Linked DNA regions of Homo sapiens. The protein of the gene in region 1 purifies or fractionates together with the protein of each later gene. This does not show direct contact. Each region holds a gene or a part of one and is shown in the gene's direction. Other genes may lie near its edges.

The links.
Region 2: the proteins of EXOC6 (region 1) and CARD19 purify together in Homo sapiens (affinity purification with mass spectrometry; 2 studies listed by BioGRID and IntAct, with this or other methods). This does not show direct contact.
Region 3: the proteins of EXOC6 (region 1) and AKAP10 purify together in Homo sapiens (tandem affinity purification; one large-scale study listed by IntAct). This does not show direct contact.
Region 4: the proteins of EXOC6 (region 1) and NAE1 fractionate together in Homo sapiens (co-fractionation; one large-scale study listed by BioGRID). This does not show direct contact.

Annotation. Positions count from the first base shown.
Region 1 is NC_000010.11:92,917,511-92,922,633, forward strand, and holds part of EXOC6 (exocyst complex component 6), read left to right. Parts: intron 1-2,471; coding exon 2,472-2,540; intron 2,541-5,123. UniProt on the Homo sapiens protein: Component of the exocyst complex involved in the docking of exocytic vesicles with fusion sites on the plasma membrane.
Region 2 is NC_000009.12:93,108,580-93,113,702, forward strand, and holds the end of CARD19 (caspase recruitment domain-containing protein 19), read left to right. Parts: intron 1-411; exon of another isoform or gene 412-513; intron 514-1,988; coding exon 1,989-2,142; exon of another isoform or gene 2,143-3,299; coding exon 3,300-3,359; exon of another isoform or gene 3,360-3,638; coding exon 3,639-3,710; intron 3,711-4,412; coding exon 4,413-4,528; 3' UTR 4,529-4,704; downstream 4,705-5,123. UniProt on the Homo sapiens protein: Plays a role in inhibiting the effects of BCL10-induced activation of NF-kappa-B. May inhibit the phosphorylation of BCL10 in a CARD-dependent manner.
Region 3 is NC_000017.11:19,904,322-19,909,444, reverse strand, and holds part of AKAP10 (A-kinase anchor protein 10, mitochondrial isoform 1 precursor), read left to right. Parts: intron 1-168; coding exon 169-264; intron 265-3,212; coding exon 3,213-3,218; 3' UTR 3,219-5,123. UniProt on the Homo sapiens protein: Differentially targeted protein that binds to type I and II regulatory subunits of protein kinase A and anchors them to the mitochondria or the plasma membrane.
Region 4 is NC_000016.10:66,816,455-66,821,577, reverse strand, and holds part of NAE1 (NEDD8-activating enzyme E1 regulatory subunit), read left to right. Parts: intron 1-18; coding exon 19-128; intron 129-2,940; coding exon 2,941-3,050; intron 3,051-4,090; coding exon 4,091-4,153; intron 4,154-4,549; coding exon 4,550-4,613; intron 4,614-4,905; coding exon 4,906-4,997; intron 4,998-5,123. UniProt on the Homo sapiens protein: Regulatory subunit of the dimeric UBA3-NAE1 E1 enzyme. E1 activates NEDD8 by first adenylating its C-terminal glycine residue with ATP, thereafter linking this residue to the side chain of the catalytic cysteine, yielding a NEDD8-UBA3 thioester and free AMP.

The DNA of each region.
Region 1 (5,123 bases):
TTCTCTCGTTCTTTTTTTCTTTCTTTTTTTTTTTTTAGAGATAGGGCTCACTGTGTTGCCCGTGAGTGCAGTGGTACAGTCATAGCTCACTACAGCCTGCAACTTCTGGGTCCAAGTGTTCTTCCCACTTCAGTCTCCCAAGTAGCTAGGACTAAAAGCACACTATCACCATGCCTGGCTAATTAAAAAAAAAAAATTTCTTATAGAGACAGAGGTCTCACTATGTTACCAAGGCTGGTCTTGAACTCAGATTATCTTAGCCTCAAATTATCCTCTCACTCAGCCTTCCAAAGTGCTGAGATTACAGGTGTGAGCCACCATGCCCGGCATCCTATTGCTTTCGAAAGTTTTTTCTACAGGGCTTGATGCCGTGGCTCATGCCTGTGATGCTAGCACTTTGGGAGGCCGAGGGGGGCAGATTGTTTGGGCCAGGAGTTTGAGACCTGCCTGGCCAACATGGCGAAACCCTTTTCCTACAAAAAATACAAAAAAATTGCCAGGCATAGTGCCTGTATTCCCAGCTACTGGGGAGGCTGAGGTGGGAGAATCACCTGAGCCAGAGGAGGTTGAGGATGCAGTGAGCTGTGATCATGTCACTACATACCAGCCTGGGTGACAGAGTGAGACGCCCATTTCAAAAAAATAAATAAAATTATCTCCACAGAATCTTCTATTGAACTTACCTTTTATCGTCCTTTTCAATTTTTTTTTAAATTTAGCTACTATCATAGGAACCTTGTTATTCCCAATTAATTTATAAGTTTTGCCTTGCCAATGAGATTTTAAATTCTTTTTCTAAGGACATAATTGGGATGCAGTAAGAATTTTTAGTTGAACCATACGACTATGTGCTCATGACTGCATTTGTGAATGGGTGAACAGCTGAGTGTTTACTATGTGCATTTCTTTTTTTTTTTTTTTGAGACAGGGTCTTACTCTGTCACCCAGGCTGGAGAGCAGTTGGCATAATCATGGCTTACTGTAACCTCAAACTCTTATGTTCAAATGCTCCTCCTGCTTCAGCCTCCCAAGTAGTTGGAACTACAGGCACATGCCTGTATATACTATATCCAGCTAATTTTTTTATATTTTTTGTAGAGATGGGGAACTGCCGTGTTGTCCAGGCTGGTCTTGAACTCCTGGCTTCAAGTGGTCCTTCTGCTTTGGCCTCCTAAAGTGCTGGGATTGTAGGCGTGAGCCACCACACCCAGCCACTATGTACATTTCTGCTGTATATCTGAGGATGAGGTGATACATATGTACATAGTCACACAAATATATATGTAGTATATATGTAATATATTTGTGTGAATATGTATGCACATATGTGTATGTGTGTATATATGTGTATATATGTATATATATGCGTATGTAGTGAATGTCTGCTATTGTACTGAATACAGACAAATGAACAGCTTCAAACAGTTAAATGCCTTCCTAATGTGGAATTAGTATGTCCTGATTAGTCCCTTGAAATTATTATTAGGTTTTTTGTCCCTTTAAATTAAATAAATATTTTTGACCTCTGCTTTTTTGTTCTTTCTAAATATTCAGAGGACCTCTGTATTATTTTCTCCTTTGAGGTTCAGAATGTTGAAAATAGACCATCTAGTCTTCTTACTTCAATTTTCCCCTTCCTGTTCTGTATATCTTTCCTGCTGGGAGCATCACCATCATGCCTTACCCCCAGACCTTTACATTTAGAGGAGCTTGGTGGTTTCCCTGTTCTCTCAGATCTATTTTACTACTATACTGCACTACATTTTGTTTTTATCATTTTCCCTAATAAGCAATGTTATAGTAAAAATAATTTAAGTTCACTCTGGAGATTCACATGAGTACAAATGTGTTCCTTTAAAAAGGGTTTATGTATTTCTCAAGTTTGAGAAACTTTATAGTACTACATTTCATCAATTGTAAGGCATTTTTTTTTCCACATAACATTTCAGAATATAGGATACATCTTAAAGATGATGGTGTTATAGTTTTAAGTGGTGGTGTTTTTTCTTTCTTAGCAGTCTGTAAAATAATACTGATAGTGTCTTTAATTCAGTGCAATAATGACCAATCATATGACATAGCTGCGTAAGAACAGGAACTTTGTCTATAGCCAAATCATGAAATCTGTGTATCATTTTTACCCAAAACAATAATAAGGTATCTAGTTATCCATAGCAGTTTTCTGTAATCTATCATACATATTAAAAATATACAATTTCTCTCCTTGGTTACCTTAAGTTGAAAACAGTCCACAGTGATAATAAACATACTACAAAGAATAAACTGCTGAAGAAATGCCAAAACAAAATAAAGAAGGTTTTGCGTTTATAGTGTATGCTTTCTATGGGGGAATTGAATAAATGTTGTAACACAAAGTTCATGAATCTTCTTGCCTATCTTTAACTTTACATTATCTAATGGTGGTCTAATAGTTTGACCTATAATTTTTTTAAAAATGGTTTAATTTTCAGATCTTAACTGTTCAGGATCTTGTTGATTTTTCCCCTGTTTATCGATGTTTGCACATTTATTCTGTTTTGGTAAGTATGTTTTATATTTATGTATATATAGCTTTATATTATTTAAAAGGCATGTATGTATTTTAGGCCCTAAAAATTGATCATATGCTGTAAATCTTCACATAATTCTTTGTGAAATATCCACTCTGTGTAAGGCACTTACATTTTTTGTTTACTTATCATAGTGTAATTTCAAGTGATATACCATTTCATGTATATTTTAAGAACCTTGTAATAGTATACTTCCATTTCTCCCTATTGCCTTTGTGCTGTTGTTACATCACAGTTCTTATAAGTTACTTTTACATGTGTATTCCATACTACATTGCTCTTATTTTTGATTTAATGTTCCTTTTTAAAAATAACTGCTTTATTGAGATCTAGTTCACATACGAAAAAACTTACCCTTTTAGAGTATACAATTCGGTGGTTTTAGCATATTCACAAGGATGTGCAACCATTACCACTACCTAATTCCAGAAATACCCATTACCCACCCCTCCAACCACCCCCAAAACATCAAAAATGTGTATCTGGCTGTTATTAGGTGGTGTGTTCTATAGATATTTGTTAGATGTAGTTGGTTTATAGGGTTGTTCACGTCTTTTACTTCCTTGTTGGTCTTCTGCCTATTCTGTTATTGAAAGTAGAAGTATTGGAGTCTTCAACTATAACTGTTGAATTGTCCATTTTTTCTTTCAGTTTTGCCAGTTTTTTATTCATGTATTTTTAGGGCCTTGTTGGCAGGTGAATATATGTTTATAATTGTTATGTCTTCCTGATGGATTGACCTTTTTTAAAAAAATCATAAAATATCTTTCTTCATAATATTTTTTGTCTTAAGGTCTGTTTGGCTTTAATTAGTATAGCCACTCCAGCTTTCTTCTGAGCACTATTGGCATAGCATGTTTTTCCCCATCCTTTTACTTTCAGTCTCTTTGTATCTTTGAATCTAAAGTATGTCTCCAGTAGGTAACACATAGTTCAGTCTGTTTTTTTAAATCCAGTCTGCTGATCTCTGCCTTTCAATTGGAGTGTTTAGTTCATTTACATTTAATGTAATTACTGGTAAGGTAGGATTTATGTCTGCTCTGATGTTTGCCATTTGTTTTAACATGTCTTATATCTTTTTTGTTCCTCTATTCCTCCATTAGTACTGTCTTGTGCATTAAATAGATATTTTCTTATGTACCATTTCATTTCCTTTGTCATTTCCTTTTTTTTTTTTTTTTGTGCTGGAGTTTTGCTCTTGTTGCCCAGGATGGAGTGCAATGGCATGATCTCAGATCACTGCAACCTCCGCCTCCTGGGTTCAAGTGATTCTCCTGCCTCAGCCTCCCAAGTAGCTGGGTTTACAGGCACCCGCCACCATGGCCAGCTAATTTTTTGTATTTTTTTAGTAGAAATGGGGTTTCACCTTGTTGGCCAGGCTGATCTCGAACTCCTGACTTTAGGTGATCCACCCGTCTCGGCCTCCCAAAGTGCTGGGGTTACAGGTGTGAGCCACCTAGCCCAGCCTATTTTCTTAGTATTAGCCCTGAGGATTGCAATTAACATCTTACTTTAAAACAATTCAGTTAGATTAATACCCTTTTCTTTGTGCTATTGTTTTCTTTCTTTCTTTTTTTTTTTTTTTGAGATAGGGTCTTGCTCTGTCACCCAAGATGGAGTGCAGTGGCGTGATCACAGCTCACTGCAGCCTTGACCTCTTTGGGCTCAAGCGATTCTCCCACTTGAGCCTCCCAAGTACCTGGGACTACAGGCTCATGCCACCATGCTTGGCTAATTTTTGTATTTTTGGTAGAGGTAGAGTTTACAGTATAGTCTTACTGTTTTATGCTGTAAATTTAATAAACTTTCATTAGCACAATAACTTCTGGCTGGTATATATAACCAAAAATTATTTGGTAAAGCTAATTTCTTTCTTTTTTTTTGAGACAGAGTCTTGCTCTGTTGCCTAGGCTGGAATGCAGTGGTGCCATCTTGGCTCACTACAACCTGCGCCTCCTGGGTTCAAGCGATTCTACTACCTTAGCCTCCCAAGTAGCTGGGATTACAGGCGCCTGCCACCACGCCTGACTAATTTTTGTATTTTTAGTAGAGACGGGGTTTCTCCATGTTGGCTAGCCTGGTCTCGAACTCCTGACCTCAGGTGATCTGCCCACCTCAGCCTCCCAAAGTGCTGGGATTACAGGCATGAGCCACCGTGGCCGGCCACTAATTTCTTATTATTGTTACAACTCTTCTTCCTTCTACTTGTTATTCCAGTTCTGCCATTTCCCAGCATTATAGCATTGGGAAAATTACTTCCCTTATTTGAGTTCCTCATTTGCAAAATATGGTTAACAATTTCTAAGGCTATGTTGGATATTATAGTCAATATAAATAATAAAAGTGCTTGGTATAGGACCTGGTATAAAATATCAGGCAGTAAATGTTAAAGGGGTTATTATAAAAGGGTTACATTAATATGTATGCTTTCAAGGACTGTTGACTGTAAGTCTACTTTAGCCAAAAAAGCTCTTTGTCCGAAATCCTAAGGTATCCTACTCTATTTGATCAAATATGAGTATTCCATGAAAGGAAAATAGGTATAATGTCAAA
Region 2 (5,123 bases), on another chromosome or scaffold:
CCAGATGGCCCTGCAGCCCTGTGGGCAGCCACGCTCATCACCCCATCTCACAGAGGTGGTCCGAAGGCTCAAGAGGCAGCCACTTGCCCAGGGCCACTCATTTCAGGAGTGTCAGGCCACATCTTGAGTTCATCCTATTATTTGGGAAAGTGCCCAGGGCCAGTGGCTGTCACTCTGTCACATGGCCCTGGCCTCTCAGAGCTGCAGAGCTGGGCACACCAGGGTGGCTCTGCTGGAGATGGCATTTAAGATGCAATTCCTGGGCTCTGTCTTGGGAGGTCTGTTCTGCTCCATCACCCCAGTGCCAGGTGGCCCTGAGGGGACATTGGATGAGAGAGTTAGCCACACCCTGCCGACCCTACCCACATCTGTGGCTCTGGCGCCCCCACTGAGCCACCTGTTCCTTGACAGGTGCCACGTGCAGGGCTATCCTGAGGGTTGGGGCATCTCCTGGAACAATGAGGTTGGCCCACAACAGAACAGGAGTCAACACGGGCCCTGCTACTGGCTCAGGTGCTTCTTCCGTTTTGAAGGTGGTACAGTAATTTTAAAAGTTAGGAGCTCAAATCCAAATCTCTTATTATTGCAATTGAAGTCTAATGCATGTTCACTTTTAAAAAGTTTAGAAAGTTTAAGACGTTTATACAAGAAAAAGCACATATTCCTTCCTCACAGACACCACAGCTCCTGCCACCCATCTGCCTGCCATTTTCACACTGCCATGGTTTAACTCCAGTTCCCTGTGGCCATGTAGAATGATATGCTGCCACCAGGTGGCAGCACCAGGCCACAGACTCCAGGTCCTGGAGGTCAAGGCCCAGTGGCCTGTCCACTGACCTTGAGAACCACACATTTCTCTGTCATACACATCAAAAGAGCCAATACTTCTGTCTTTTTTTTTTTTTCTTTGAGATGGAGTCTCTGTCGCCCAGGCTGGAGTGCAGTGGCATGATCTCGGCTCAGTGCAACCTCTGCCTCCCAGTTTCAAGCAATCCTCTGGCCTCAGCCTCCCAAGAAGCTGGGATTAAACATGCACCATCATGCCCAGTCAATTTTTTGTACTTTTAGTAGAGATGGGGTTTCACCGTGTTGGCCAGGCTGGTGTCAAACTCCTGACCTGGAACTCCTGATCCGCCTGCCTCAGCCTCCCAAAGTGCTGGGATTATAGGCATGAGCCATTGTGCCTGGCTTCAACTTACTTTTTTAAAACTTGAATCACATTCTGTAGACTGAAAAATAACAGAAGTTAGCACTTATACCATCACTTCATTAATTCCCTGTCACAGCCTACCATGAGGGTTCATTATCCCTTTTTTACAAATGAAGAAACCAAGTCTCTGAGGGGTGGAGTAGCTGGCTAAGGTCACACAGGAAGCCACACTATGTCCCAACACTTGGAATGATGTCACCAGCCCTGTGCTTTCTTTTTTTCGAGATGGAGTCTTGCTCTGTCGCCCAGGCTGGAGTGCAGTGGCACGATCTTAGCTCACTGCAAGCTCCGCCTCCCGGGTTCACACCATTCTCCTGCCTCAGCCTCCCGAGTAGCTGGGACTACAGGTGCCCACCACCACACCCGGCTAAGTTTTTTGTATTTTTAATAGAGTCGGGGGTTTCACCGTATTAGCCAGGATGGTCTCGATCTCCTGACCTCGTGATCTGCCTGCCTCAGCCTCCCAAAGTGCTGGGATTACAGGCATGAGCCACCGCACCTTGCCAGCCCCATGCTTTCTTTGTGACCACTCCCAGCCTGTTTCCCAACCTCCCACCCCACAGGGAGTATGAGGAGTAGCAGTGATGCCTGTGACAGAGGCAATGCCAGGCACTATGTGGTGTGGGTAAGGGGCAGGTTGTCACAGGAGCTGCCATCCAGCAGGTGTCCTGACACCCAACAGGGAAGCTGAGGCTGGGGGCCTGACCTTGGTGCCCTGCCCTGACCCACAGCCAGCCCCCCTGGCCTGATCTTCCCTGGCACCCCCTTGTACCCTCAGTTCCGGAACCCCAAGGCATCCTTGCGTGTGCGGCTCTGTGACCTCCTGAGCCACCTGCAGCGGAGCGGTGAGCGGGACTGCCAGGAGTTCTACCGAGCCCTGTATATCCATGCCCAGCCCCTGCACAGCCGCCTGCCCAGCCGCCACGCTCTGCGTAAGTTCCACATCACCAACCATGCATGCTTGGTGCTGGCCCGGGGAGGGCACCCCAGCCTGCCGTTGATGGCATGGATGTCCTCCATGACCACCCAAGTCTGCTGCAGCCCAGGCCTGGCATCCCCTCTCGCCTCAGCCCCTCCCCAGAGGCCACCCTCTGGCCCCGAGGGGAGAGTGTGGCAGGCACAGGCAGTGCAGATGTTGGTCTCTGTCTCCCACTTTCTCCCCCTTCCTCCGTCTCTCTCTCATGGCAGTTTTCACACAGCATGGGGCATCTTATACGTCCACTCTTGCCCTTCCTTTTCTAACCTCATTCCACGGGGATCCCTTCATGTCTGTGTGGACAGCAACCTTGTTCCCACAGCTGCATGGCGCTCCTAGGCGGTCCCAGCTGGAATTACCCAACCCCATGACGGACCCTTTCATTGCAGCGATCTGCACACGTGTGGGTGTTTCCATAGGACATTGTCAGGCACGGATGGCTGGTCCGAAGCACGTGCATTTCAGTTTTGAGGCTCCTGTCCTCAGGCAGTGTGGACTCAGGCCCTGGGAGTCATGTGGATGCCAGTAGCCTGGGCCCACAGAGCTGCTGGGATGTGGGGGGCATATCAAGTTGAAGATGGCAACTCTGATCTGACGCCTCTGTGCTCAGGGCCCCTGGAGGAGGGGCTACTGCCCCTTGGCCCTTAGACAACAGGACAGAGACCAGAGGGACTGGGCGGCTTGTCCCAGGCTACTGGGCTGTGGTCTCTGACCCCCTGGAGGCCTCCCCACGCCTCACAGAACACAGTGCAGACGGTGGGCGGGGAGAGCTCGAGGGGAGGCCCAGCCCTGCAGGTGGGACTGGCTCTCCCTCCCCAGCCACGAGTATGCCACAGGGGGCTTTCAAAACCAGGCAGGGCCAAGCCTTGGCCCCACTGGAGGTAGAGCACCTTCTGTGGCTCCCGGGTGCCTTTAGGCCCGTCCAGGAGTTGGAGCAGAGGAGAAGACCCAGACTGTGCATAGTTCCCTGAGGAGGGCTAGCCTCAGGTGCCACAGCCTGGTTCGGCCTGGCGGCCCCAGGAGGCAGCAGCAACCTTGGGCTTCCTGCGGGGTGACTACCTTGCCCTCCGGCCCTGCCCGTTGACTAACTATGCTCTGTGGTTTTGTTTCCAGAGAACTCAGATTGCACAGAGCTAGACTCGGGCAGCCAGAGCGGCGAGCTGAGTAACAGGGGTAACACCTCCCTGCTGCCCCTCCCTCTCTCTCCCTCTCTCTCCCTCTCTCTTTACCCTCCCCAGGGCTCCATCTCCGCCTCAGGGGCTTCTCCACCCCAAGTCTGGCTCCATTCCTGGCCTTCTGTTGGTGACAGACCCCCCCCCTAAGGTGCTCGTTTGGGGGCTCTTCAGGCAGCACCTCAGCCTGGCACCCCCACTCCCCTGCGCAGCCCCCAGGCCTCAGGACCCCACCCCTCTGAGGCCCAGGGGAGCCCTGTTCACGCTGGTTTCTCCCCAGGACCCATGAGCTTCCTGGCTGGCCTGGGCCTTGCTGTGGGACTGGCCCTGCTCCTGTACTGCTATCCGCCAGGTGGGTGCAAGCGGATCCTCATGGGGCTGGGCCTGCCTCCCCTCTGCCACCAAGCCAGGGCCCCAGACCCTGCCCAATTTGGGACCCCTTGGCCTCTTCGTACCTCGGTGTCCACACTTGTGCAGTGGGATGGTGTCACCTCGCAGGGCTCCTGAGAAAGGGGATGTGAGGAGGCTCCCAGCGTCCACTGGCCCCTGCCACCCTTGGGAACCAGAGAATGATGACCTCTAGCGGGAGGAGGGGTGCAGCCAGGACTCTGGGTGTTACAAAGCCCTGCCACATCTGTGACCTTGAACCATGTGGGGCCCTTGAGCAGGTCACGTGCCCCAGGGCCTTGGGTCTCTCCAGCAGCCACAGGCCTGATGCACAGGAACCTTCCAGGGCCCCTCTACTGGCACCCAGCCTGGCCTGCCCCGTCTCCCTTTTCTGTGATGCCTGAGTTTGTCGTGCTGGGAGGCTTACTGGGTGAGGGGACACAGGCACACATGGCAGGACTCAAAGGCCCGTGGGTCACTCGGGTGGGAGCTGGGGGCTCTGGAATCTGCCCTAATTCTTGTCTTTTCAACTCAAGCCGAGACCATGACCGGGAGGGAGCACCCTGTCCCAGTGCCTGTTCCCACCCACCCCCGCAGGAGGGATGGAAACACAGAATTCACCTCTGGGACTGGTTCTTGAGCTTTTGCCTCCCCTTTTGTCTTCTAGACCCCAAGGGCCTGCCAGGGACCCGGCGCGTCCTCGGTTTCTCGCCTGTCATCATCGACAGACATGTCAGCCGCTACCTGCTGGCCTTCCTGGCAGATGACCTAGGGGGGCTCTGACAGACCCTGGACCCAGGGCCTCACCTGCCACTCAACCAAAGAGTCCTCGAGCCGGCCCGCCAAGGGGACTGCTGCTTCTTTTTCTAAATGCATATTTTTCATTATTTATAATTTGTGTAAAAAACACACCTTCACCTTACAAGGTGCTGACCATATTAAATGTTCAGGTTCTCTCAGCCTGCCTCGTTCCTCAGTCTCAGGGGTGTTTCAGAGATGACTGCAGCTATGGCTGCTCCAGCTGGGGCTGGCCCTGGTATTCCCAGCATCCCCACATCCAGCTGCTGGCACAGACCCCCCAGACAGGACGCCCTCCACATGGACTCACCTGCCTCGGATAAGCCGCCAGGCACTGCCTCCCCACCTCAGATGTTCCCCACACTGCCCCCTCCTCACACCTCATGTGCCACACACACACACACACACACACACACACACACACACACACACACCCACTCCCCCCACCCCAGCTGCTGAGCCTGGACCGGACACCTGATTCCCTCCCCTTGTCAGCTCCTCCCCCAAGCCTTTTTGTGGGGAAACGAGAATATTTGTCAACCCACAGAATCATCATGAGTTTGCATTTTCCAGGGGGTTT
Region 3 (5,123 bases), on another chromosome or scaffold:
ATATTCATAGCCAGAGGGTGGCCCAGGTTTTTTCGTACATGGGAATGAAATTCTTATCCAAATAAGTAGAAATTATGTGCGTAAGCCATTTGTTAAGAGCACTGAGTATGTGCATCTCGATCCATCTAATGAATAACCATTATCACCAGTTTAAATTATTTTCTTTAGGCCCAGGAAGAGCTAGCTTGGAAGATTGCTAAAATGATAGTCAGTGACATTATGCAGCAGGCTCAGTATGATCAACCGTTAGAGAAATCTACAAAGGTAAGGATGACTTCGTTTTGTGTAAACTAAAAAGTATTATTTTCCAGGTGTAAAAATAAAAAAGAACATAAGGGGTTTCTTTGCCTTTGAAGGATTAACTGCTGTGGGGATTACCTTCTTATCATAAGCAACTAGAAAATTGACAAACTAAATGAAACAACTGTTTGCATATATTGGACAATGGGCAATACAGGGAAACCATGGAAACCAAACAGAGCCCAGTAGTCTTGCTGAACGAAAGAGTTAAATATCAAAGTTCAGGCCAGGTGCAGTGGCTCACGCCTGTAATCCCAGCACTTTGGGAGGCCAAGGCGGGTGAATCACTTGAGGTCAGGAGTTCAAGACCAGCCTGGCCAACATGGTGAAACCCTGTCTTAGCCGGGTGTGGTGGCAGGCACCTGTAATCCCAACTATTTGGGAGGCTGAGGCAGGAGAATCGCTTGAACCAGGGAGGCGGAGGTTGCAGTGAGCCGAGATCACACCACTGCACTCCAGCCTGGGCGACGAGCGAAACCCCATTTCAAAAAAAAAATCAAAGTTCAGAGAGCTCAATTTGAGTAGAAGTTGTAGGATAAGGTAGCAGAAAAGAGGAAGCTGCCCAGAAAGAAAGCCGTAGAGATATTTAGAGAGATTCCCATGGATCCTTGGCCTAGGAGTGATCTGTATATGTGTGGGGTGAAAACGCATGTGTCCAGGTAGAGAACCCCCCAGAAATTAGTAGGCTGAATGATTGCTGGAACATAGGGCTAAGAAAAGTTCATGGCCAGAAGGATCTGGCCAGAGTAGAGAGACTTAGTAATACACAAGGCATTGGGTAGTGTCTTCACAGAGGTTATGCCTTACTACTGAAGATAAATTAGTCCTAGAGTACAAGCACCTGAACCAAGTTTCAAAGCAAATTTTTAAAGGGTCAAATTACCTAACAACTGCATGCCAAAACAAAGGCCTAACCCTCTTTACAGTAACACAACAAAATTCAGCACTTCACAGTGTAAAGTTAGAATGTCTGACGTCCAGGCTGGGCGCAGTGGCTCATGCCTGTAATCCCAGCACTTTGGGAGGCCGAGGCAGGTAGATGACCTGAGGTCAGGAGTTCAAGACCAGCCTGGCTAACATGGTGCAACCCCGTCTCTATTAAAAATACAAAAACTTAGCCAGGCATGGTGGCCGGCACCTGTGATCCCGGCTACTTGGGAGGCTGAGGCAGGAGAATTGCCTGAACCCAGGAGGTGAAGGTTGCAGTGAGCCGAGATCGCACCACTGCACTCTGGTCTGGGCAAAAAGAGCAAAACTCAGGCTCAAAAAAAAAAAAGAATGTCTGACGTCAATCACAAATTACCAAGCATGACATGAAGTTGACCTATAACCAGGAGAAAACTCAATCTATAGAAACAGACCCAGATGTGAGAAAGATGATGAATTTAGCAGACAAAGACCATCAAGTGGCTATTTTAAATATTAAAAATATGTTCAAGTGGCCAGGTGCAGTGGCTCATGCCTGTAATCCCAGCACTTTGGGAGGCCAAGGTGGGTAGGAGTTCAAGACCAGCTTGGCCAATATGGTGAAACCCCTTCTCTACTAAAAATACAAAAAAATTAGCTGGGCATGGTGGCAGGTGCCTATAGTCCCAGCTATATGGGAGGCTGAGGCACAAGAATCACTTGAACCCGGGAGGTGGAGGTTGAGGTTGCAGTAAGCCGAGATTGTGCCACTTGTACTCCAGCCTGGACAACAGAGTGAGACTCTGTCTCAAAAAAAAAAAAAAAAAAGTTAAAGAAAACAAGAGTATAATGAGAAAAATGCAAAATAGTTTTAAAAGAACCAAATGGAATTTCTTAAAATAAAAAATACCAGAAATGGGGGCCGGGCGTGGTAGCTCACGTCTATAATCCCAGCACTTTGTGGGGGCTGAGGCAGGCAGATCACCTGAGATCGGTAGTTCAAGGCCAGCCTGACCAACATGGAGAAACCTCATCTCTACTAAAAATACAAAATTAGCTGGGCGTGGTGGCGCATTGCCTGTAATCCCAGCTACTTGGGAGGCTGAGGCAGGAGAATTGCTTGAACCCGGGAGGCAGAGGTTGCGGTGAGCTGAGATTGCACCAGTGCACTCCAGCTTGGGCCACAAGAGTGAAACTCCGTCTCAAAAAAAAAACAAAAAAAAACAGTAGACTCGAAGAACTAGCTGAGTTTTTCTTTACTTTAGGCAGTAAGTGTGACCTTTTGCAGGTGACTACTTTAGTTCCTCATGTCCTCATTAGTAGATCAGAGAAATTCGACACCAAAACCCCAAAAGAAAAACCCCTTCTAATCCTCATTCCATGATTTTATGAATGCATGAAGTCCTAGGCCTGCGAAGGAATACTCATTCTCTTTATCCTGTGTTGATACCTCTCTGCTTCAACCTCCAACTCGACATTTGCCTATAGGATGTACTTGGACATTCAGCATAAACTACCTCACACCATTACTGAATTGCTTCATGTGCACATGTCCCATGCCACAATACCGGGGACCTTGTCTTCCGTGATATTTGTCCGCAGTGCTGTGACTACAGGAGGGAGTCAGTGAATGTCTGCATGTGTGTCTTTACCATCCCTCTTGAATATGCTCTAGGGTTAATTCCTAGAAGTAGAATTACTCTATTGAAAATTGGCAATATTTTTCATTCTAATATCTATTGCCAACATGGGAAAGCAAGTCTGGATGCCAGTCCTTGTTATATGCCCCTTGGGTAAGTTACGTAACCTCTTTAAGCTTCTGTTCACTCATATTTTAACAAGGAAAATTACAATATTTTACCTCACAAAATTGTAGTCAGCTTCTGGCTGTCTTAAACTCTGGTATATAGTAAACACTAAGTGTTGGTGTCCATCCTTAATTTGTAATAATAGGTCACTTGTTAGAGAAATGCACCTTACCATTTTCTTTTCTTTTCTTTTTTCAGTTATGACTCAAAACTTGAGATAAAGGAAATCTGCTTGTGAAAAATAAGAGAACTTTTTTCCCTTGGTTGGATTCTTCAACACAGCCAATGAAAACAGCACTATATTTCTGATCTGTCACTGTTGTTTCCAGGAGAGAATGGGAGACAATCCTAGACTTCCACCATAATGCAGTTACCTGTAGGCATAATTGATGCACATGATGTTCACACAGTGAGAGTCTTAAAGATACAAAATGGTATTGTTTACATTACTAGAAAATTATTAGTTTTCCAATGGCAATAACCCATTTATGAGAGTGTTTTAGCCTACTGGAATAGACAGGGACCACATCCTCTGGGAAGCAGATAAGCATAGAACTGATACTTGATGCACACTCGTAGTGGTAACTCATCCCTAATCAGCATTGTAAAGCAGGTGCCAGAGGTGGTTTGCTTTGTCCTTCCAAAGCAGGTGAGTCAGCCCCACCGAGAGCCAGGCAGCTTTGAGTGGCAGCGTGGTGCTAGCAGCTTCAGCGGAACAGGGTGAGAGTTAATTATGCAGTCTTCTTGACAGCGGCATTAATTTGGAAGGAAACTGACAAGTCATGGGTCAAGTTTCAGTGACTTCCTCCTTCCTCTGATGGCAGTATATAGTTTTCACATTTTAATTCCTCCTCCTGAGATGCACTATACTTAAAACCATTCTCTCCCCTGCTAACAGAAGGGTGTGAATCTGGTTTACTTTGAGCATTAGGATTTGCCCCTTTGGAATTCTGCACTCCAGTTACTTAACTTTCCCTTCAGAATACATGTGGAAAGAAAGAAAGAAATAGCGATGACTCCACTTTTGCCCCTGTGGCACCTTGAACAAAGCAGTTCTTCCCAAATTATACTTTTTTTTTTTTTAAATAAGGTGAGCAGGATGACTGGGGAGAGAGAAACATTTGACTTTGACTGCCTCCCCCATTCTTTGCTGTGAGCTGGAAAGTGTGCAGTTGGTCGTCTTTCTTCTCCTTTCTTTAGGATAGTAAGAGACTCACTCACTGCACTTCTGCTCAGTTGGCTTCTGCATCGGGATCACACAGCCATCAGCAGGACTGCCCAGTTGGTGAGCACACTCCATTGACCACGTGGCGCCAGCGCTTCCTCAATGCACATGATTGAGAGGAAAGAAAGTTCTCTTAGATGTTACTGCTTTTGCTCAGACTTTGCAAAAAAAAAAATATATATATATATGTATAAATATATAATTATTAATCACTTTTGTCCTTGAGAAAGTCTTGAATGAACAGAGAATTTATTCCATTGCAATATTTGATTGTATAGAGGCACACTGTTTCATCGACAGAAGAAGCAAAAAGGCTTTGTGTAAGTTTTTGGTACTATGTACCACCTCTGTTATTCTTTTAAAGCTGAAGTATTCATGTACTTAAACCATATTATATTTAATTGTGTTTGATTTTAAAATATATATATATGAATTCTATTTAAAATTGTGTCAACTTTCTGCTTTCAGGGCATTTATGGCTCTTCTGTTGAAATATATTGATCTTTCCAAATATTTTCATTTGCTTTCTAAAAACCCAGAACATGAGCCACTACTGGACTTTGCCTTGTGTTTGAAGTGTATGGCATAAACCCAAGGTTTTTATTAGTCATCTATGCTGTGATTAATTCATTTTGTTCTTTTAACAAAATATTTCCATCCACTTCACATTGCTTCAATCTTTAACAGAAAAGCAATATAAAGGTTATAGAATAAAATGTGGTTTTGGGCAACTCTTGCTGCCTCTGCATGTTTTGGAATAACAATTTCTACAAGACTCTAGGCTGTTTAAACTAGTGCTTTCAGTTAAGATAAATTCTAATCATTTCTTTGTATATACATTTTGTGCTTCTGAGCTAGAGATGCCAAGTAGTTGTAAACTGCTT
Region 4 (5,123 bases), on another chromosome or scaffold:
CTTTTTTTTTTTAAACAGCACTTCACTACGCTTAGCAGATGTCCTCTGGAATTCCCAGATTCCTCTTTTGATCTGTAGGACATATGGACTAGTTGGTTATATGAGGATCATTATAAAAGAACATCCAGGTAAAATTGTTGAGCATATGGGCTTACTATTGGTTGCTTTAGCTATAATTTTAGAAACTTGACAATTTAGAAAGTCAGTTTTAAATTACAAAGTAAATTTGTAGCAGCACATCTCTAGTTGCAGATTCAAAGTGGCAATCAGATTCAATAGGCTGCAATCTACTCTTTATGTAGCATTATAGAAGGATACAAAGCATGATATACCACAGGCACAGCTTCTTCATCTTATTAGGAGATCCAGCAACTATGCAAGTACCCAGCTTCTTTTGCCCCCTAACCCACATTGGGCATGTATGGCTGTGGAGAGCTAAGGAATGTGGATCACTCTGACCCATGAAGTTACACCACCTTTCCCCACTCCAGTCTTTTTTTTGTTTTTTAAGACAGAGTTTCGCTCTTGTTGCCCAGGCTGGAGTACAATGGCACAATCTTGGCTCACTGCAACCTCCACCTCCCGGGTTCAACTGATTCTCCTGCCTCAGCCTCCCAAGTATCTGGGATTACAGGCACCCGCCACCATGCCCAGCTAATTTTTTTTTTTTTTTTTTTGAGACGGAGTCTCTCTCTTTTGCTCAGGCTGGACTGCAGTGGCGCGATCTTGGCTCACTGCTACCTCCACCTCCCGGGTTCACGCCATTCTCCTGCCTCAGCCTCCCGAGTAGCTGGGACTACAGGCGCCCGCCACCGTGCCCGGCTAATTTTTTGTATTTTTAGTAGAGATGGGGTTTCACCATGTTAGCCAGGATGGTCTCAATCTCCTGACCTCGTGATCTGCCCGCCTTGGCCTCCCAAAGTGCTGGGATTACAGGCGTGAGCCACCGCACCCGGCCGCCCAGCTAATTTTTTGCATTTTTAGTAGAGACAGGATTTCACCATGTTGGCCAGGCTGGTCTCGAACTCCTGACCTCAGGTGATCCACCCGCCTTGGCCTCCCAAGGTGCTGGGATTACAGGTGTGAGCCACTGCACCAGGTCCGTCCAATCTTTTATTTCATTCTCATGCAGGCTTTAGGTTCTCTCAATTCAGGTGCAATTTCACACAACAAAGACATTTACATAACTACTGTTCCCAAGGAAACTGTTGTAAGAGACCAAAGTCGTTTATAGGCAGACCTCCATCAGCTGAGGGTTTATATAAGCCCTTTACTTATAAAATTTTAATCTTAGATGATCATAAAATTTTCATCCAGTATTCAAAACAGTGCTCTTTATTGACTCAAGAAAACATTTTTACTATGAGCCAAGCACTCTGCTAATGTGGTGATAGCCATTGGCATTGGTAGCATCACTGAGGAGTAATATCTGTGTGGGCAGTTAGGGAGTGCTTGTCAGGATAAGCTCTGGCTGCTGGTGGTGAGCCATTTAAGAGTTGAAAGTGGTGTCAACTGATGGGAGGGAACAAAAGAGTTGAAAGTGGGAGAGTGACCATGTAAACATTTTATTTTAAATGGGTCACTTTGAAGTTGAGTGGAAAGTAAATGGATTTAAAGGGGCAAAGATTGGAGGCAGTGATTGCTGTTAGAAATTTCCAGTGGCCTAAGTAAGAGAGAGTGTGTTCTTTTTCCTAATTTAGGGAAGAGAAGAAGAGAGGGTAGATAATAATGAAGGTTCAGCATTACTAGTTGTGTGCCTGCCTTTATAAGAATTATTTCATTTACTCTTTCCAAAACCTTTATAAGGTACAGATTGAGTATCCTTAATCCAAAAATCCAAAATCAGAAATGCTCCAAAATGCAAAACTTTTTGAGAACTGACATAATATTCAAAGGAAACACTCATTGGAACATTTCTTACTTCAGATTTTTGGGTTAGAGAGCTCATCTAATATGTATTTGCAAATATACCAAAAACTCAACAAAATCCAAAACACTTATGGTCCCAAGCATTTTGGATAAGAGAGATATACAATCTGTAGATACTTTAATATCTGCTTTTTATAGATGATGCTGAGGCAATGAGAGATTAAATTATTTGCCTAAGGTCACATAGTTAGCAAGTGACAGAACTGGGCCTACCTCTAAGCACTCACTGAAATTATACACTCTCCTGTCCTCTCTCATGTGGAGAGCAGTGTACAGAGTGAGATTAGGAAGTGGGGAGTTACTGATGTTGGGGCCAAGGAAGCAAGAAGTGAAGGATGCCCATCAGGTTTCTGGAGAAGAAGTCTAGGTAGATGGTGATGCTGTCTATTGAAGACCACAAGAGGAGGAAGGATAGGTTGTTAGTTGCTATCTGTACCTAGGGTTTGTCAATGTTGAGCTTTTCCAGTTAGAACAAATTGTGTTCTAAAGGAATCTTGGTTTTACTTTTACTAAAACTTTATAGTTGACTTAAGATTTCTGCATTTTACTATATGTAAATCGTACCTTAATAAAACAGTGAAAAAACCTGTGGGCCCTGTGTCCATTTAAAAATTAAAGATTTCCTAAGTTTCTATAATTCAATGTATTGTCATCAGTATTGCCAAAGAATTAAGTTTATCTTTTGAGCTGGGCACGGTGGCTCACACCTGTAATGCAAGGACTTTGGGAGGCCGAGGCAGGAGGAGCCCTTGAATCCAGGAGTTTGAGACTAGCCTGGGTGACATAGTGAGACCCTATCCCTACAAAAAAATTAGCTGGGCACAGTGACACGAGACTGTAGTCCCACCTTCTCAGGAGGCTGAGGTGGGAGGATCCCTTCAGCCCAGGAGTTTCAGCAGTGAGCTGTGATTGTGCCACTGTACTTCAGCCTGGGTAATACAGCAAGACCCCATCTCTCTCTTTTTTTTTTTTAAGTGTTAAATTTATCCTTTTGAATTCTTTGTTTCACAGTAATAGAATCTCATCCAGATAATGCATTAGAGGATCTACGACTAGATAAGCCATTTCCTGAACTGAGAGAACATTTTCAGTCCTATGATTTGGATCATATGGAAAAAAAGGTTGGTAGTGTGTGTGACCTTACATTTACAGATAGACTTAAAACATTTTTTTAACCTAAGGTTTTTGAATTACACTAAAGTGAGAAAATCCTATAAACTTCCATATTCCTGTCATCCCGATTACCCAATAACAGTATTTTACCTTGTTTTCAACATATTAATTTTTCTCCAAAATTAAAAAACTTTTTTACTGAAGAAAAGTACATATACTGAACATCTGTGTAATCACTACCCAGGTCAAGAAATTGGACATTAACCTATTCCAGGTGGGGAGATGGGGATGGTTAATGGGTACCAAAAAAAAATTAGAAAGAATAAATAAGATTTACTCCTTGAAAGCACAACAAGGTGACTATAGTTAGTAATAACAACTCAGTTATACATTTTAAAATAATTAAAAGAGTTTAATTGGATTATTTGTAACATAAAGGATAAACGCTTGAGGGGATAAATGCTATACAGATACCCCATTCTCCATGATGTGCTTATTTCACATTGCATGCCTGTATCAAAGCATGTACCCCATAAATATATACACCTAAGTACCCACAAAAATTGAAAGTAAAAAATTTTAAAACAAAAAACAGAAATAAAAAAATTCCAAGAAGTTCTCTTTATGGACTTTTTCTAAACAAATAGAAATAATGACATAACACTATAAGGCGTATATGTATTTTTTCCCACTTCCATATTAATTAACATGCAGTTGCTTATTTGGTTCATCAGAAAACAGAAAAGATCCTCCTTTCTTACTTAGGATTGGTGTCTGAAATTGAGATTTGAGCTGTGTTTTTGGGTGGCAGTCTCTGAGACTGTTTTGCTGGTATAATGGGGACAATCATAGTATATATGTGACATACTAGGTATCTGCCTCTAGAAAAATTTGTAAAGCAGTTTTTATTAACTCAGTTCATTTTCGTCTATTCACTACTCTGCATATATTAGGAGATCATAAATATTGTTGAATTTGTTGAAAACGAGATGGTACAGTGAAGAATTCATAATACTGATATTTTCTTTTATTTGTCTCTCATTTTTAGGACCACAGTCATACTCCATGGATTGTGATCATAGCTAAATATTTAGCACAGTGGTATAGTGAAGTATGTCCTTTTTTAAAAAAAATTTCATATGCAACTGTATTTTCAGTTTCTTACAAAGGATTTCCTTGATGGGGAATGGGAGATTAATTTTTTTTCCTTATGGAGTTGTATGGTAGGGCAAATGGATGCTTTTAAATTTAAATCTAGCAGTTCCTCTTTTGATCCTGATAATTTTAATTAAAATGAAATTCAATAAATGTCATTATGAAACTGGCAGGGGGAATGAATGTAGATAAATGGTCACAGTGTCTGTTTTCTATCAAGTGAGCCTCTGATTTCACAGAGAAATATATTTGTTGATGAAATCTTATGTAGAGAATGGGGGACACTTTAGACTTTCAATTTCTGTATTTTGAATTTTAATAACTAGATTTTTAAAATTTTTAACCAATTTAGACAAATGGACGAATACCTAAAACGTATAAAGAAAAAGAGGACTTCAGAGATTTGATTAGACAAGGTAATATGGGATATGATTAAATACTGTATAAAGCTTGAAAAGCAAATTGCTAGAGGCAGGTACTTATTGGATTTCTGTTAACACCTTTGTCAGATGATAGCATCATGAGCTTTTATTTTCCTTCTGGAGAAGTTAAGAAGCCACGCCTTGTATAGTTTTAAGGACTAATGATAAGCCGTATTTCTTCTTAAGATTTAATATTCTGCAGGATCTGACAAGGTTATTTTTATAATGGGGGAACAGAAGAGTGAAAAGAAAAGGGCTGTTTGCTAACAATTTCCCATTACAATAGGAATTCTAAAAAATGAAAATGGGGCTCCAGAAGATGAAGAGAATTTTGAAGAAGCTATTAAAAATGTGAACACAGCACTAAATACAACTCAGGTAATGAAAGAGTTGCTGAGGGATTCACATGAACAAGATGTTTTCTAGAGTCCTTGGCTATTAAATGGTTGACTATAATGATTTAAGTTAATATTTTCTAAATGTATAGTTAGAAATAAATACAGG